Homo sapiens: one gene and its partner. Each later gene encodes a partner of the first gene's protein in a complex. Each region holds a gene or a part of one and is shown on either strand. Other genes may lie near its edges. The genes, in order: SGF29 and MBIP.

The links.
Region 2: SGF29 (region 1) and MBIP share a complex: the UniProt entries of both Homo sapiens proteins name them as parts of the ADA2A-containing complex.

Annotation. Positions count from the first base shown.
Region 1 is NC_000016.10:28,581,258-28,585,081, reverse strand, and holds part of SGF29 (SAGA-associated factor 29), read right to left. Parts: intron 170-3,824; coding exon 94-169; intron 1-93. UniProt on the Homo sapiens protein: Chromatin reader component of some histone acetyltransferase (HAT) SAGA-type complexes like the TFTC-HAT, ATAC or STAGA complexes.
Region 2 is NC_000014.9:36,313,961-36,317,784, reverse strand, and holds part of MBIP (MAP3K12-binding inhibitory protein 1), read left to right. Parts: intron 1-972; coding exon 973-1,092; intron 1,093-2,869; coding exon 2,870-3,094; intron 3,095-3,176; coding exon 3,177-3,273; intron 3,274-3,824. UniProt on the Homo sapiens protein: Inhibits the MAP3K12 activity to induce the activation of the JNK/SAPK pathway. Component of the ATAC complex, a complex with histone acetyltransferase activity on histones H3 and H4.

The DNA of each region.
Region 1 (3,824 bases):
ATTTTGAATACAATGACCACCTCGGTCACAGTCTTGGCCATACTCACCCTAGCCCCATCTCATCCCCTTTCTCTCCTGAGCCCAGCTACTCACTCTTGTTCTCTGTCTGCATCCGCTCATGGGTCTTCTGGATGTTCACTAAGTTGTGTTCGCTCCGCGAACGCTCTTCCTGTAAGGAAAAGAGCAGCAGGACATGACGGTGGCCCTTTGTGCTGCTGTGGTACCCTGCCAGCCAGGCCAGAGTCCCCATCCCCAAAATACGGCCCTCATTTTCTTTTTTTTTTTTTTTTTTTGAGATGGAGTCTCACTCTGTCGCCCAGGCTGGAGTGTAGTGGCACGATCTCGGCTCACTGCAAGCTCCGCCTCCCGGGTTCACGCCTTTCTCCTGCCTCAGCCTCCCGAGTAGCTGGGACTACAGGCGCCCGCCACCACGCCTGGTTAATTTTTTGTAGTTTTAGAAGAGACGGAGTTTCACCGTCTTAGCCAGGATGGTCTCGATCTCCTGACCTCGTGATCCGCCTGCCTCGGCCTCCCAAAGTGCTGGGATTACAGGCGTAAGCCAATGCGCCCGGCCTAATTTTTTGTATTTTTAGTAGAGACAGGGTTTCGCCATCTTGGCCAGGCTGGTCTTGAACTCCTGACCTCGTGATCCACCTGCCTCGGTTTCCCAAAGTGCTGGAATTACAGGCAAGGGCGCCCGGCTATGGCCCTCATTTTCTAAATCCAAATTCAGGAGTTCAAGATGATTTTCTCCTTTGACTAATGCAAAAGCATTATAAAAGGCCTTAAAGGGCCTGGTGCAGTGGCTTAAGCCTGTAATCCCAGCACTTTGGAAGGCCAAAGTGGGCAGATCACTTGAGATCAGGAGTTCAAGACCAGCCTGGCCAACATGATGAAACCCCACCTCTACTAAAAATACAAAAATTAGCCGGGCATTGTAGCATGTGCGTATAGTCCTAGCTACTCGGGAGGCTGAGGTTGCAGTGAGCTGAGATCATGTCACTGCACTCCAGCCTGGGTGACAGAGTGAGACTGTTAAAAAAAAAAAAAAAAGAAGGCATTAAAGTTAAATCATAAGTGATATCTTTAATGATAGTCCTTTATCAAAGAGACAAATCAATCTATACAGTCAACGCAATCCCCATCAAAATTCTAATTGACTTCTTTGCAGAAATTGACAAGTTCATCCTAAAATTCATATGGAAATTCACGGGACCCAGATTATCCCCAATCTTGGAAAAAGAAAAAAAAAGTTGGAGAACTCATACTTCCCAATTTCAAAATTTATTACGAAGCTACGGTAATCACGATGGTGTGGTACTGGCATATAGATCAACAGAACAGAATTCAGAGTCCAGAAATAGACACATACAGGTATGATCAATTGATGTGGAGAAGAAGGGGTGGGGAAGAATGCTGGTGCAATTCCTCCCATATCAGTCATCCTGGGAGCAGAGCTGCAACTGCAGATGCTGGAAACTGAGACAGATCCTAAGAAAGAAATTATGACTATGCTTTTTAGCCTTTATGTGAGAATTTTTAAGTGCCTGATGGGTGGGTTGCGCCTTTACCTCAACCTGCAAAATGAGGTTAACAGTGAACACAGCTAGCTAGCTGCCTAGTGCTCAAGACAGCCAATAGTCCATACCTGTGTAACCCCACCCTATATAAATGGGAATGGATTGGGGTTGGGGGGGGATACTTGCTAGACTAGTACTGCTGCCGCTGCAATCTGGACCAGGTACAGTGGCCAAAGCTAACATCCCTTACAAAGGTGGAAAAGTTTGGGTGAAAACCAATCACAAATGGAGAGGAGAAACAGTAGCCGAGTTAACAGAACAAATTAAATGGGTTATGCAATGAGGGAAATCCAATATTGTACTCATACCTCAAGAGAGGCTGAGAGAGAGAGAATGCCATCTCTTAGGTCAGTTACACTGGGTGCCTGAAAGGGCGAAGCCCTGTGTCTGTCAGGACCACGCCTGCTTTTGGAAGCTGACGGGTGAGATGGGAGTCTGGGAACTCGGCAGCAGCTGTCTGAGGGACACCCTGGTTGTATGGGATGATGATAAACTGTTCTAACTGTGGATGACTGAATGGAATGCGTAATCTGCCTGTATCTTTTTTTTCCTTTATTTATTTTTTTGAGACGGAGTTTCGCTCTTGTCGCCCAGGCTGGAGTGCAGTGGTGCGATCTTGGCTCACTGCAACCTCCACTTCCCAGGTTCAAGCGATTCTCCTGCCTCAGCCTCCCTAGTAGCTGGGATTACAAGCATGTACCACCACGCCCGGCTAATTTTTAGTAGAGATGGAGTTTCGCCATTTGGCCAGACTGGTCTCAAACTCCTGACCTCAGGTGATCCACCCGCCTCAGCCTCCCAACATGCTGGGATTACAGGCATGAGTTACCACGCCCAGCCCTTTTTTCCTTTATTTTACAATGTATTTTATTGATAAACTCTTCTTAGAGCAGTTTTGGTTTACAGAAAAGCTGAGCTGATGGCACAGAGTTCCTGTATGTATACCTGCTCTGCCCTGCGCAGTCTCCCCTATTGTTAACATCTTGCATTAGAGTGGTGCGTTTGTAACAACTGATGAGCCAATACTGTTAGATAATTAACTACATCCATCCCCATGATGGTTTACTCTGTGTGTTCTGCCGTTCTATGGGTTTGGACAACGCATCATGTTGCGTGCCCCCCATCATGGTACCCTGCAGAAGAGTTCCACCCCCTAAAATCCTCTGTGCTCCACCTATCCATCCCTTTCATCCTATCTCTCCCAAGGCCCTGGCTACCGCTCATCCTTTCACTCTCTAGTTTTGCTTTTCGTTTACAGTTGGAATACACAGCACGTAACCTTTCAGACTGGCATCTTTCACTTAGCAATGAGTGCCGGCATCTTCTGACTCTTACTCTCCAGGTTACGTCTAAAAGGAATACCATTTGGGAAGGAATTTCTGGGATCTACTCCTTCCTGGCTGTGCGGTGCACAACTGCCAGCAAACTGATCCTTGTGTAGCTATAAACCCTGAGTATCGTGGGCAAAATGTGGCAGAGCATGCCCGATAGCCTGCAGTGAGCTACAGGCACCAATACGCATCTCCCTTGTATCTGTGAAAGAAAAGATATCAAATAGGGGAAAAATGGCTTTTTTTTTTTTTGAGATGGAGTCTTGCTTTGTCACCCAGGCTGGAGTGCAGTGGCGCCATCTCGGCTCACTGCAACCTCTGCCTCCCGAGTTCAAGTGATTCTCCTGCCTCAGCCTCCCCAGTAGCTGGGATTATAGGCATCCGCCACCAAGCCTAGCTAATTTTTGTATTTTTAGTAGAGACAGCCAACATGGCAAAACCCCGTCTCTACTAAAAATACAAAAACAATTAGCCGGACATGGTGGTGTGTGCCTGTAATCCCAGCTACTAGGGAGACTGAGGCAGAAGAATCGCTTGAACCCAGGAGGCAGAGGTTGCAGTGAGCTGAGATCGCGCCACCGCACTCCAGCCTAGGTGACACAGTGAGACTCCGTCTCCAAAAAAAAAAGAGTGTTTTTGTTTGCCTGGATTAATAGGGTGGAAGGAAAAGATATGGGGCATTTTTGTTGGGTGTTAAAAATGTTCTGAAATTGATCGTGCTAATGGTTGCACAATTTTGTGAGCTGCGAAAAACCACTGGATTATACACTTTAAATGGGTGCGTTGTATGGCATGTGAATTCTATCTCAGGATAGCTGTCAAACAAAATGAATCATGAAATCCTGTACATGGTAGAAAATCCAACAGGAATGGTAGCCATACACCAAATTCCCCTCCTTTCACTTTTATTACG
Region 2 (3,824 bases), on another chromosome or scaffold:
TTGAATAAATTATGTTAACTTGATTCTACTATGAAGTATAGTCTTATACTATGCTGTAAACACATGTCCCTAGAAAAGTTTTTGATGGTTCACTTTTATTCATTCAAAAGACTGCAGATGGGCGCTCTCATTGTAAAATTTTCACTCATTTTGATAATAATCTTATATTCAGGTTCTTGGTAGTTTTCTGGATATGATTTTATTCTATTAGATCACCAACTGATAGAAATTTCCATATAATGAGCTGTCACATCTTAGCATTTACAAAAGATCTGGACATTTCATCCAGTCTGACAACTTATTTCACTGTGGTGGAGAAGTCTTTGTTTTTCAGCTTCAGACTTCCATTGCTAAATAATAGTTTTTTATTTGAAATAAACATGTTGCCATTTATCCCTACACTTTATATGTATGAATAATCTTGACTTTTAAATTAGTTTAAAAATCGGTTAAAAGTTAAAAAACTAAAAATGTGATTTGGAGGACATCAGAATAATGATATATTTCTGATATGTATTTGTGTACATACTTAAAGAGAAAGATGCATGTTAAAACTTTCACAAAACACTTGTACTTCCTCTGTTTAAGGCTCTGAGCTAGAAGTAGTAGGATTCTGAATAGGGCAAGCCTATATTGGACTCCATCCAAAGGTTTGTATATATTGAAGTATCAAAAGAGCCTTCATCTTTTCATCTTTCATGAATGGTTTTACCTCTAAAATGGTCCCATTACACAGACCTAAGAATAGAATTTGAACGACATGTCATTTTGTTTTTGTTTTTTTATGAAAATCTGTAGCTTTCTTGGCCTTTTGAAATGGTAACTGGGTAGAGCATTTCAGTGTATTATTAAAAACTTGATAACTTAGAGCAAAATAGACCCGTTACTCTAGAAATCTTATTTTTGTGACAATTCCATATGTAGAGCTTAATCGTGTAATTTTTGTGATGTTGCTGGTTTGCCCCTTTGAAGCTTGACCTCAGAGATGATGTGGTGAAAATTACAATCGATTGGAACAAGCTCCAGAGCCTCTCGGCATTCCAGCCTGCATTGCTCTTTAGTGCACTTGAACAACACATTTTATATTTACAGGTAAATTTCTTGTTAGAAATGATAACCCGATATTGAAAATAGAAATTGATTGTGGTTAAGTTAGTTGGAGTATTTGACAGTTCTAAACACTATATTAATAGTGTTGCTAATAAAACGTTATTTACATCCGGATTTAATCTAAATCTGTTAATTTCAGTAGTGATCAGGACAGTTAAGGGAATATAGCCCAAAAGACCAATGTGGGTATGAGTGAATGAATGCAATTCTATTCAATTCTAGACCTGCACTGAAAATTCAATACAGTTCCATCTATGGTGGGTTATAATTAAGCAATAAGACACGGCAGGTGTGTGTCATGCTATGATAATGATTCCATGCCTTGGGTGAGTTTGGAGGCTCATGGAGTGCTTTCAGTGGTTCAAGAAGGGGCATTATCCCAGCATGACACATCCTGGAGTGTCTATTGCAATTAAACAGTTTCAGCATAGTTTTTAAAAAGAAAGTAATTTCTATGACATTAATGTCTCATCTTAGTAAGTAGCCAGTCACTATTTTATCATTTCTTTTCCTTAACAGTTTGAAATAATTCATTCTTTATATTAGAAGTTAATATTGAATTGGTATTTATAATAGTGTTGTTATATTTTTAAATATTTCATGTTAATAACTGAACAGTATTATGACCTTGCTGGTTTCTAATTGAACATCTTTGCAATTATAATTGATGTAAGTTTGCAGTTTATCTCTAATCAAAGTGTAAAATGTGAAGTGTCAAAAAGATAAGTGGAAAAACTGGATTGGTCAGTTTACTGTGATTAAGGTGTTATAAGATTTCAAAAGAGTAGTATAGCGAACAATGGAAGCAAAATTGTAGGTATGAAAAAAATAATTGGAACGTTATTAGTGTTAGTGTGTTTTGACTAATGGAATAGGCATTAATTTTCAGCCCTCCATTCATTGACTTTGTGGGAAATTTTAACTGTTTCATGTTAAAAGTAATAGTTAACCCTGTTTTTAAAGGGCAGAGCAGTGAGCTCTAGAACTCAAATGAGACCTCATTGTGGGGAGTGGGGGAGGGGAACAGTAAATGAGTAATATAGTTTAAATTCTACAACAGGGGTTTTCCCCCTGTAGTATAGTGATAGGCCTCTGCCTGTTTTCAGCTATAGATCTTTTTTTTTTCTTGTTCGTTTTCTTTTTTAAAATTTAATTTTATGACCAAAAGATATCTTGCCATGTCAGGAAAAGTCTGAGTGTTCACTCAGCCTAACACCTATATATTTCATGTCTATGCTTCCTCATTCACATTGGCCAACTGCAGTTTCAAGTGGAGAATCTCCAGTGATACAGTGATAATGCAGGGCTTTGCTGAGTGAGAGCACTAGCTCTCGTGTTAAGGAGGAAAAATACTAAGCCTTAGTGTTCTGAGGAGGCATTTGAATGACATGTTAATTAAGTGGCATTGGTGCCAGAGGCTGAAGGCTTTGATTTGGCACAAAATAAAAGATGAGTGACAGAATGATTCTCTCAAAGAAAATTTTAAATTTCCTTAGGTTTTCTTTTCTTTTTTCTTTTCTTTTTTCCTCTCTCCTTTTTTAAAAAACAAATTTATAGCAAATGATAATGGTTACAATAGCAGAGAATAGTGAGTACTTATATGTGGTCAGATCTATGTGTCCTGGTATACCAACTTTTTATATTTATTAACTGATATTAAGTATTTCATTTACTTAGCAGAAATTTATGTAAATATATTAAGTGTGTAATTAATTTTGGTCAGATTGAACCTCAGCAGATGGAATTGTGTTGTTCTCAGCCTTTTTTAGCAAAACTTCAGTCTCCGATTAAAGAGGAGAATACAACTGCTGTTGAAGAGATAGGAAGAACAGAAATGGGGAACAAAAATGAAGTAAATGACAAATTTTCCATTGGCGACCTACAAGAGGAAGAAAAGCACAAAGAAAGTGATTTAAGAGATGTGAAAAAGACACAGATCCATTTTGATCCAGAAGTAGTTCAGATAAAGGCTGGAAAAGCAGAAGTAAGAAGGTTTTTTGGCGGGGGCGAGAGGGTATTATTTTAAAAAATCTTATGTTTACACTGTTAAAACTTGTTGTTTGTAGATTGACAGACGAATATCTGCATTTATTGAAAGAAAGCAAGCTGAAATCAATGAAAACAACGTCAGGGAATTTTGCAATGTTATTGATTGTAATCAAGGTAACTACCTGGAAATTAATTTTCATAGGGTTTTAAGCACAATTTTTATAGTTGCTCTAATCTTTTATTTATTTTTTAAATGAATAGCTTTTAGAACACAATTCAATTTATTTCATGGATTTAGTTAGTAATTAAGACAGTAGAGTTTCCTTCTGCTTAATAATAGACTATATTGCAAACTGGTTTTCATTTTGGTTACACAAAGTAAATGCTAACATTAAAAAGTGTTTATCACAGGTGAAGATTATTTTAAAGTTCCTTTAGGAAATGAAGGTGAGGTACGAGTGAGAAGGTTGATCTATCTCACTAGTAAAAGGAACTGAGCTCTATGAATTTCAAACCTATACATGTACTGTGAAATCATGATGTTAATACGTAAGTGAACTTAGTAAAGTTAATATTCCTCCAGAGGGAGCAGTTTTCTCACTACTCCTGAGCTGTTTGAAATGTCCTGTGTCACGATACAACCAATTTATCATGAAGACCATGGTGTCTTGCTTTTTTCCTTTCTGCCATAGTGCATACATTTGCTGTTTTTCATCTGATTCACC